2 separate regions of the Homo sapiens genome follow, and region 2 is linked to region 1. Evidence: fine-mapped expression QTL. A gene starts in region 1. The other region holds a variant in brackets. All regions are shown on one strand. Distances are from middle to middle.

Evidence for each region. PIP is the estimated chance that this variant, and not a neighbour inherited with it, causes the effect.
Region 2: its variant is fine-mapped to the expression of GMDS in whole blood (TOPMed, PIP above 0.99).

The regions. Positions count from the first base shown.
Region 1 is chr6:2,243,302-2,248,678 of GRCh38, reverse strand. It overlaps GMDS (GDP-mannose 4,6-dehydratase), which reads left to right and starts at 3,074. Exons shown (of 11, transcript NM_001500.4): 1 at 3,074-3,358. The coding sequence starts at 3,257. It overlaps GMDS-DT (GMDS divergent transcript), which reads right to left and starts at 2,926. Exons shown (of 7, transcript NR_046229.1): 1 at 2,749-2,926. RefSeq lists a silencer at 2,802-3,431 and an enhancer at 2,932-3,432.
Region 2 is chr6:1,714,488-1,719,864 of GRCh38, reverse strand. All of the region lies in intron 9 of GMDS (GDP-mannose 4,6-dehydratase), which reads left to right. Among named protein-coding and RNA genes, the nearest start is that of FOXC1, 110 kb to the right of the region's middle. The variant T/C (reference allele first, on the strand shown) is at 2,312.

The DNA of each region.
Region 1 (5,377 bases):
ATGTTATTCCACATATTTAGTCTTGTACAGAATGATTGACTTTTATCCAATTAGAGGACTTGGAGTTGGAGGCCTCACTCTTTTCTCTATATTTTGTATCATATTAAAACAAATATGAAAATGTTATGAAAAGTCATAAAATGATTCAATATCATATCCCTTTCAGATTATAGCCCCTTGAAGATTATTTCTCCTCTACTGCTATACCCTCAGCAGCTAGTATGTTTCTGGAGATTAGCCAAGTTTGTGAGTAAAGGTATCAGCATCAACAATTAGCTACCAAATGTATTTGCTTCTTCTGACATACCATGAAGTCACTGTATAGTATAGCCAGTGTCTGTCAGTTCAACCACCCGCTTGTTAACATCTTTCACTGGCCTCCTGGAGAAGGGTTACTCAGCCTCAGCACTATTGACATTTTGGGCTAGAAAAATCTTTGTTGTGGGAGCTTCCTGTGCACTGCAGATGGTGAGCAAAATACTTAACCTCTACTCATTAGATACCTATAGCACAACTCCATTTGTGACAATCAAAAATGCCTCCAGACATTGTCAAATGTCCCCTGGGGGCAAAATCACCCAGGGATGAGAACTGTGTTAGAGGAAAACACAACTGAGCCATCACCCTTAGAGCTTTCCACTACCGCTGGTCGCTTTACTTCTAGTTAATGTAATCTTCTTATGCTGCCCCAGACCCTGTGCTGACGTTGTTCAAGTTGCCCTAATGCTACTGGGAAAATGACAACAACCTCCACTACCAACCTCCTCCCTCCGAGCCCACAAACAGTTAAAAAAAAGAACCTCTTTTTCCCTCTAGCTGTCAATCATGGGTTGAATTTTGTCCCTCCCCCAATTAATATATTGATGTCTTAACTCTTAGTAGCTCAAAATGTGACTGTATTTGGAAATAAGGTCATTAAAGAGGGTCCTAATCAAATGTAACTGGTGTTCTTATAAGAACAGGAAGTTTGGACACAGACACACATACAGAGAGAACGCCATGTGAACATGAAGACAGCCAGCTACAAGAAAAGGAGAGAGGCCTCAGAAGAAATCAGCCCTTGATCCTAAACTTCCAGTCTCCAGAACTGTGAGGAAATAAATTTCTATCGTTTGTCACCCTATGGATGGTACGTTGCTGTAGCAGACCTACCACCTGTCTTCAGAAAAGTTCTCTAGAGAAATAGCCTTTATTCTTCAAGCTTCCTCTGACCTACCATTTCCCATCATTTTATAAATATTTTCAGGCCCTAATAATGTTGATTTTTTTTCCATTTTTCTTCTACTGTCACACACTTCTAGGGCAGGTGTTTGGTGGTGTGACAGGAAATTGACTGGTGTCAACTTCCAGTGTTTGTGTGATAGGAGGTCTCAAAACTACAGGATAAATGTGTCATATCTCCCATAAGTATCAGTTTTGCTCAGTGATTTTTTTTTTTTTTTTTTGAGATGGAGTTTTGCTCTTCTTGCCCAGGCTGGAACGCAATGGCAAGATCTCGGCTCACTGCAACCTCCTCCTCCCGGGTTCAAGCGATTCTTCTGCCTCAGCCTCCAGAGTAGCTGGGATTACAGGTGCCCACCACCACGCCTGGCTAATTTTTTGTATTTTTAGTAGAGACGGGTTTTCACCGTGTTGGCCAGGCTGGTCTTGAACTCCTGACCTCAGGTGATCCACCTGCCGCAGCTTCCCAAAGTGCTGGGATTACAGGCGTGAGCCACTGCGCCCGGCTTGCTCAGTGATTTTTTTAAGGAAAATGTTAAATAATTGGCTCATGCATTAATTTAAAGCGTATTTACATGAAAATGAGTATAGTTTTAGCATATTCCCGTATATTTCACAGACATTTCTAGCTTATAGCATGTTCCTCTCAATGGAAGTGTTCCCTCTCCTCAGCTTCAGGGTCTCTTCATCACTCAGAGGCACCATCAGATGTTTGTTGAGCCATTCTCCTCATAGAACGCAGAGGAGAGGCCAGGTGTGAAACCAGACCAGTCTATCTATAGCTAAGAAATATTCCTAACGGACCTCGAGGAGCGCGAGAGGGAGGTTTTAAATGTAATCCTGAGCTTTTCTGATTTTGGGGTTCCAGGTCTGCTATACATACTCTTGCACGTTATATTGGGCACAGCCCTAGTAACTCTGTGATTTGAAATGATGATCTGAAGTTATCGATTAGGGAGAGGAATGTGGACAGAGAAGCAGAGCAACGGAGACCGGGAAGTTTCCGTCTGTGTCCTGGATTGCAGCCAACTGCTTAGGCACACACACCTGCTGCCCTCCCGGCTCTGAGTCACCTCCTCTCCTCTCCCTGTCCAACGAGCAGCTGCCAAATGGCAGCCAAATCCAACAGATGTAAGCCGGGACCCCACCTGTGTTTGAATTACTTTCTTTGAAATCTGCCACGTCCAGGTTTATTGACCCGGGCAGTCTTTTCAACATTTCCTTATGCCGCATACGGGTGGGGCTAGGGACTTTCTTGTGCACTGGCAGTCCTCAGAAGAGAAAACTTTGAATTCAGCTATTTGGAACCTCGTTACTGGTTCCGAGCCTCAGGAAAGGCCAGAAGAGCGAGAGCCAGCCTAGTTAGTCACTCCCACATCTGTGACCCCCGTTTACGGGCCTTGTACGCTACTGCCCTTCAGGTACCATAAACCGGGCTTCTCAAAGGGCACTGCAACAGGTTTCCAGGAATTATTTATCAAAGTCCATGACCCCGGCCCTGTGACCCCTGGGTTTGAAAATTCAGACCTTCAGCCTAACGGAGAGGTCGGCTCAGCGTTCCTCCCAGCATCCTCGGGCGATATTAGGGTCCTGGGAGATTCGGGAGGCCACTGCGTCCAGGCCCCCCACGGCCAGCCAGGCGAGAGGCGGGACGCGAAGCCGCGGCCTCCTTCCTCTTCCCTGAGGCGGTGGCGGCGGCAGGCCCCGCCCCTCCCGCGCGGTGGCCGTCGGCGGAGGGGCGGGGCCTGCTACAGCGTCGCCGGCTGACGCGAATGACGCTGCGCCAGTCAGGCCGCAGCCCCGCTGCTTGGCCCGTCGGGCCCGCCTTGGCCGGCTCGGCCCGCCCCCGGCCCTCCCTGCACGGCCTCCCGTGCGCCCCTGTCAGACTGTGGCGGCCGGTCGCGCGGTGCGCTCTCCCTCCCTGCCCGCAGCCTGGAGAGGCGCTTCGTGCTGCACACCCCCGCGTTCCTGCCGGCACCGCGCCTGCCCTCTGCCGCGCTCCGCCCTGCCGCCGACCGCACGCCCGCCGCGGGACATGGCACACGCACCGGCACGCTGCCCCAGCGCCCGGGGCTCCGGGGACGGCGAGATGGGCAAGCCCAGGAACGTGGCGCTCATCACCGGTATCACAGGCCAGGTGAGTGCGGGGGCGGGGGCGCGCCGGCCGAGGCAGCCTGGGCACGCGTGCTCTCCCTACGCGCCGCTACTCGTGGGCTGCGGTCTCTCCAGGAACAGCCCTCTCGGCGTCCCGGAAGGGGTCTGCTGCCGGGAGGTGGGACGGAAGGTACGGTGCAGTTAGTGTGTTGCGTGTGGGGTGTGCGGGATACATCGAGCGCCTCTGGTCTTTCTCTGGGGGCTGTGAGCGTGTGTGCCGCGCGGGATGTCGCGCTCACACCCGGGCAGGACCGCCCGCTCTCACCTGCCCCTCAGGTGACCGCAGCGTCTCTTCCTCCAAGCCCATGTCGTGCTTCGCAGCTCCTAGTGCCGGAAAGGGAAAAGAACCGGTGATCAATGAACTTGCGGGTGAGGTCTTCTTGATGTGTCTCGGCTCAAGGGGCGCTTACCTGCTAACGTTTGGGAAGCAAGAAAAAGGGTGCTTTGCTGGTTTCGTCCCCTATCACCGGATTTCCAGATAGAAAAGAGAACATGAAAGAAAGTAATGCTGTGGAGTCACCTACTAGGACATGTTTAGGAAAAAGAACTTAAAAAACTTTTTAAAATCACGCCAACTTCTGAGATTCAGGTTGACACATTTGGAAGTGTATCCGAGGCACACTGGTCCAAAAGTGCGGCTAGTTCCATTTTCAAAGGAATAAGTTCGTCGAGTAAGGTAATCAAGAGGAGGTCTTCGGAATGTCTCAGGCTAAGCATGGCTGGTTTGTGAGGGTCGCCTCTTAGAGGTGTTGCAGTAGGTGGGATCCGACCGCTGTGTCTTACCAAGCTGTGCTGTTTTAGATTCAGTGGTCATGAAGTAATCGTGCCCACATATTGCTGTAGAAAGAATGTGATGTGTGTGCTCCTGGGTATCTCTGGGTGGTGGCCAATATAACACTGAGATAAAGGTGATAATGGCTAATACATATTGTGTCTATCATGTTCCAGTCGCTTGCCTAACATTAACTCATTTAGTTCTCATAACAAACTCTTTGAGGAGGTACTTTTATTATCTCTATATATGTGGAAACTGAGGCATGGGAGTTTGATTTGCCTGAGGTTAAACCGCTGGGAAGTGTCCAGTTGGTATTGAAACCACTCTCAAAGTTCTCTAGTGTTAGAAAGGGCTAAGTGGGCAGGAGGCAGCGGCTCATACTTGAAATCTCAGCACTTCGGTGTGCAGAGGTGGAAGGATTGCTCGAGGTGAGGCCAGGAGTTTGAGACCAGCCTGGGCAACATATTGAGACGTTGTCTCTACAAAAAAATTTAAAAAATGAGGCAGGCATGTTGGTGCTCACCTGTAGTGCTAGCTACTCAGGAGGCTGAGGCAGGAGGATCACTTGAGTCCGGGAGTCTGAGGCTGCTGCAGTGAGCAATGATGGTACCACTGTACTCCAGCCTGGGGCAAGAGAGTGAGATCCTGCCTCAAAAAAAAAAAAAAAAAAAAAAAAAAAAAAAAAGAAGGAGAAGTTGAAATTGGCCAGATGCACAGTCACAGAATATTACACAATTTCAAGTATTGAATACCTGATTTACTGCTGGTTATTCATGCATCTTGCTTTGCTTAAGGTAATCATAATAGACAAGAGTTTGAAAACTAGTAAGAGGTGGATCTGAGTTTGAAAACTAGTAAGAGGGCAAGGATCTGAGGTTGAGAAATTGAATCCTTGAATTGAGGCAGTAAGACAGGTCAGGGCCTACATACTGTCCTCCCCCTTCTCTTTGTTTTCTAATGCTGGGACCTTTCTGCAGATGATTCCCTTTTTTCCATTTTGTCAGACTGGACCTGAAGCTCAAATGTTTACCAAGTTTACCTAATCTCTGGAAAGTAGAGATTTTATTTTAGTATTGTCCGGAAATTAGTTAAGATTAACATCTTAACTAATGTGCTGTGTTGGTGTGGCCTATACCAATTTACACGACCAGCAGTATGAATCAGTGCAGATTAGAAATGGAACCTAATTTTGACTTTTAAGAGCAGTCATTTGGCTGGAACTGAGTG
Region 2 (5,377 bases), 530 kb after region 1:
TCTTTTTATCGTCTTAAAAGTCTGTTTTAGCATCTGCATCAACTTTCCATAGGAGGAACAATTAGTTGTTGAGCTCAACTTCTACCTAAAGTAGCTCTGAAGTACATCACCTAAAGAATAGAATTACTTATGAGAGATCCATTCGTCCCTGGTGTGATTACCTGTTCCATCTTTATTTTCATCTTTGGCCGATGACCTCTGTATTCGGAAATCTAAAAAATCCCTCTCTCTTTTTTTTTTTTAAACAAATCAGCAGTGCTCTTCCTGTTCCACCAAGCCTTATTTATCTTCCAAAATAACAGCAATCCAAAAATCTGTGTTCATGGAGATTTCACAGATAATACTGCCTGTGGTTTCTCTCACCCCGTTCTGCCTCATGCTCTCGATAAAGTTAATTATTTTTTATCAAATTTGATTGTTTTCCCAGCACCTTCTTTACTTGAAAACAGTTGCTCTGCAGACACTAGAATATTCTGGGGCTGAAATGTAGTCATGCCCATCTACCGTGGGCTCTGCGCCACCTTTCTCACCCTGCATGCCTTCTCCCACCACCTCACTGCCCACACCTGTGGCTCATGCCAGGCCGGCTTCTCTATCCACTGTTACATCTAGTAGCAAAGGCAAAAACTCGTCTGGCTCCTTTTGTCATTAACTGCCAAGGTGATAGGTCCACCACTGACGGGCTTCCGTCCCAACTTAGTAGCTCTGATCTGCCTCCTAGACAAATGCTTACCAGGTTTGGCCCATCAGTAAATACCTGGTTTCATTCCGCTGTTACTCAGCAATAGGAACTGTCCTTAATAGCAAAATCTACCTTGTACATTTTGTAATGCTGTCATCAATTTGCTAGTTTCCTGAGTAAATCAGGTATGCCTTGCCCCCATGAAAACCTGGTGTAACAATATCCAAACTAAAAAATAAGTGACTGTGTGTAGGTACTAAAAGATTCTGCAGGTTTTAGGATTTATTACAGGAATATTTTAGATAGTACATTGACCATGCACATTTAAAATATAATTCTGATTTACCTTCAGCTTCTCAGATATATATCAGTATATATGAGAAAATATATATATATGAAATATATATATATGTATATATATGAAAATACATGGTTGAGTTTTTAACATTCAATTTTGAAAAGAATGTTTATTGAACATTCCATTACCGTAGAGGTAAGTCCCAGTCTAACACCAAGAAATTTAAAGATAGATGAGATAAGGTCCTTGTCCAATAGAAACTCTCAGATGAAAGGGAAGCAGCTGCGAAGCTGCCGGGACAGCCCGGGGTGGGGTGGGTGTAATGAGGGACTCACGGAACCAGGGCAGCCCAGGCGAGAGAAACAGTGACAGGTGCCAGAACATGGCAGAGATGGAGACCATGGAATCAGAGTGGACTAAGGACATGTGGAAGAGAAGACAGAGCTGAGGTTGACTCCCAGGACAGAGGCTGAACCATGTAGGGTAGTGGGGAGGTGACGATGCTGGAACCCAGATCAGAGATCCAGCGAGAAGACTTACTTTGCAGGGGGAGGTGTTGAGGTGTTCCGTCACACTCCCGGTGCCTTCGGGATATCTGTGCTGCAAAATGAGGGAGGCAGTTGGAGCTGGAGGCCTAGTGTAGAGAAAAGAGGTCAGGGCTAGGGCCTAGATGTGCAAGATGTGCAAGAGCTGAAATCCTGACATACATAAACTCCCTGAAGGAGCATTTCTAGGGGGGAAAAAGAGTGTGCACAGGGAGCTGGTCGCAGAGCCAGGCAAATTCGAATTCCAGGAGGTAAGTCTCAGAAACATATTTTGAAAAAGTAGGTTAATAATTCACAGCATACACAAACTAAGCACTTGTATCTGAGAGCCATAGGGCCAGATTAATGTGTAAAGAGCTAATATCAAAGAGTTACATTAATTGGCAGATGATTACTTCATCTCAATCCAAGAAAAACTGAGTTTCAGGGGGCAAGCAGAGACCCAATTTCAAATCACTATGTCCTGGAAGTCAGGTTGCAAAGCATTTTCAAATTCTTAAAGATGAAAGGGCTTTTATAAGTGTAAGGTACTTTGTGCTGCATATTGTCATTTTATTAGTCATCATTATTAATTATCATTATCATATACTCTTGTGAAATTATTAGTTATCAAAAGACATCTTCTGAAAGGATGCTTTGGGCTCTTCAACTCCTGACATTTTTTATTTAAATATTTATTTTGTTTTATACCTATAGATCTTCATGCAGAAAAAGTTACTTGTTCCTTAGTACTGCCAGCTGTGTGCTTCTTGACCCAGGGGTAGAAAGGATGATCGTGGTGGAAGG[T/C]AGGGATATGCTGAATTGGTGATCGACTTCTGATTCTGCCTAAACGGTATGTTTCAAGGGAGTGTGACAGGCGCTGAGATCCAGCAAGCTCTACAGCTCCTCCTAGAACTGCAGTATCCCCAGTAGGCTAGAGAGCAGCCACCAAGGAAGACATCAGGCTATCATCTGCTTTTATCTGCCAACCACCCCCCATGCTCCTCCCTTGGAAACCTGTCTGCAAAAACCCATCTTTGTACTTGCTCCCTAGAGCCAGCTGAGTGTCACTTTGATAGTCTAAAATCTATGTTGGTTTACTATTGCTGATGTAACAAGTAATCACAAACTTAGTGGCTTAAAACTACCCAGATTCATTGTCTTACAGTTCTGGAGGTCAGAAGACCAAATGGAGTCCCACTGAGCTAAATCAAGGTGCTGGCAAAGCCACCTTCCTTGTTGAGGCTCCAGAGTTCTTGGACAGTGAGATTTTCTCTTGGCAGGGAATACTGAGTTAATCACTTGGAACCGGTGCTGGGCTAGTGTTTTCCATGGAATGGATAGCATGTTGTTAATCACTTTGCGGACTAAACCAAAATGGAAGACGCTGGTGCATCATCTATTTAAAATTGCATAATGTACACACTCAGAAAACACCGCTGATACATTTGGGCAACTGGAAATGAGGACAGGTCGTACTTGAGCCTGAGGGACAAGGACAGGCTTCCTAATAAAGGGGAGTTTTAGAGCAGGGCTTTGGAAAGATTTGTAATTAAAAGAGAGAGTTGGGGGACGGGGTGTAAGAACTGGGAAAGAATTCACAATTGGGGCAGGAGGTGCTGTGGGAATGAACCAGCCGCATGAACAGAGACATAGGCAGGGACTCTGTCAGGTGGAGTGGGTGGGTGGCCCAGTCTGGGAACCCTGAGAAGCAAGGCTGGTAGAGCCAATATCACCACACCCTGCCCTGGCCAGGCCTTCTCTCACGCAGCCAGCAGGCCACCCCTCTTCACCGCCTCACCTCCAAGCCTGTCTGTGCAGCAGCTTAGCCACTCCTCTTATTTGTACCTCCTATTTTCTTGCCTTTTTCTTTCTTGCTGTCACGAGTCTTAAAACCAGTCATATGTCATCATTAAACTCCACATGGCCACTATTCTGATACCATTAATCTGTCTTTTGATACCTGCCATCTGACCCCTGATGGGTTCAAATTCTGGAAGAGTGTCTCCTCACCTGTTCCATTAAGTTAGTTAAACAAGTTTTGTGTTTGAGACAAATTCTTAAACAGTTCCCAGCTGTTTCAGTGATTAAAAGGCAGAGCCAGGAATAGGGAAGGCCTTACTTTCATGAGAGAGATTTGTTTATAGCATAAACGTGGATCCTTAACAGTAACTCAGAGAAAACCAATCTAAAGATGTTTTTAATCTTTTTTTACATATTCTTCGACTTCATAATGAAATGTTTCCCTATTTTCCAGGGATTTTGTTGAGAATGAAATTAATTCTGTGTGAATGTTTTTCACAGTGGTATTAGAAAGACACTGTATATTTTAAATTCAGGCTGTTTCTATTATTTTTTGAAAAGAGGTCAGTGGAGAAAAATGTGCCTAACATCGTCATCTAAAACCTGCTGTTTGAATTTTGGGGAATTTGTCATTTTTTCTAAGGCAAGTTACTAAGGTATTGAAGTTAATAAGACGTATTTGTTTCTGAATCAGTTTTTGTTGTGGAGGATTAGAAAGTACTATAGTCCCTTATTGAAATTCTAAAATTTAAAAAGTATAGTGGTAGTTTGAATATGTCCTACTAGCTTGCATTATAAGTTTTAAAGTATGTATCTCAACACCTTTTATTCCCAGCTCTCAAACTTTTGAAGTCTTCTAGAAGCTCCTAACCTCTCCTTACTTCTGTTTTTCCTGCTACAACATAACGATGAGTATTTTCCCACTGATCTCAATAGGCATGTTGAAAAAACTGATGCAATATTAGTTACAAGACCCTGCACAAGTGTCAGCTCCTTGGTGCAGCCTGCACCTGTTCCCCCAGGCAGTCAGCACTTACCGCTTATCCCATTGCATTGTGATGGGTCATTTCCACCTGGGGTCCTGGGGGAAGAATGACATCGGAGGGCCTTGAAGACGACCTGGCACATTGTCAGGGGATAAAGAATGAATGAATGTGCACATTGCCAAAGAATCATTCTTATGCTTTACAGCCAGCTCTGATAGAACCAAAATTATTCAAACCAGTGTATTAAACTATTAGAGAGCAATAGTCTAAACTATACTAAATAGCAAAGGGAATAAAAATAATAATGTTCCTCTTTCTATTTGAGATTCCATGGCAAGATGAGTGTTAAGTTCACTCACAACTTACACTTGTATATCCAACCTTTGAAAAGGTCATATTTCGTTTCTATTGCTTTACCTCTATACATGTCTTTTCACTAATTCTTTCATTTCTGCCACTTTCCTGTCTCCTTATGTTTCTGCTGATGTTCTCTCCTTTTTTCTTCATCTGTTCTGAAACTCTTATTTTCATAGGTTCTGTTCGTTTCTCCACTTCCCTCTGCACCTTTCTTGTTGATCTATCCCAACTGTCTCACACAAGCTCAGCACTCCAGATGTGCTCCCTGGCTCCTCTCCACAGGAAGACCTGGTGATGCCATATTACAGCCACTGCAGCCCGGCTCCACCCTTAGACCACTAGGGCATGATGCCTCCGGCATCCACAGCATATGCACATTGTGGGAAAATCTCATAGTATCTTGAAGTCTTGGCAGACAGCATCAACAATAATGCATATGCAAAAGGCATCCAAGGTTGCTTCTGTCTGAAGAGAGTACGACTGCCAACTGGAGGCATTGCCGGCTCTGAGCCTCCATAAGAAATGCCCCATTGTCAGCCACCATCTTTCCTTTACCCACTCTGAGGCTATATTTGTGGAACAAAGTGTCACCTAGCATAAAAGACACTCAGTTCTCTGGCTTTCCCCATGACACGCGTTTCTCTGCTACTCTGAAACTTTCTGAATTACAAAGTGAGAAATAAGTTCTACTCAGTGAATGGCCATCATGGCTGGTATTGGTATCGTG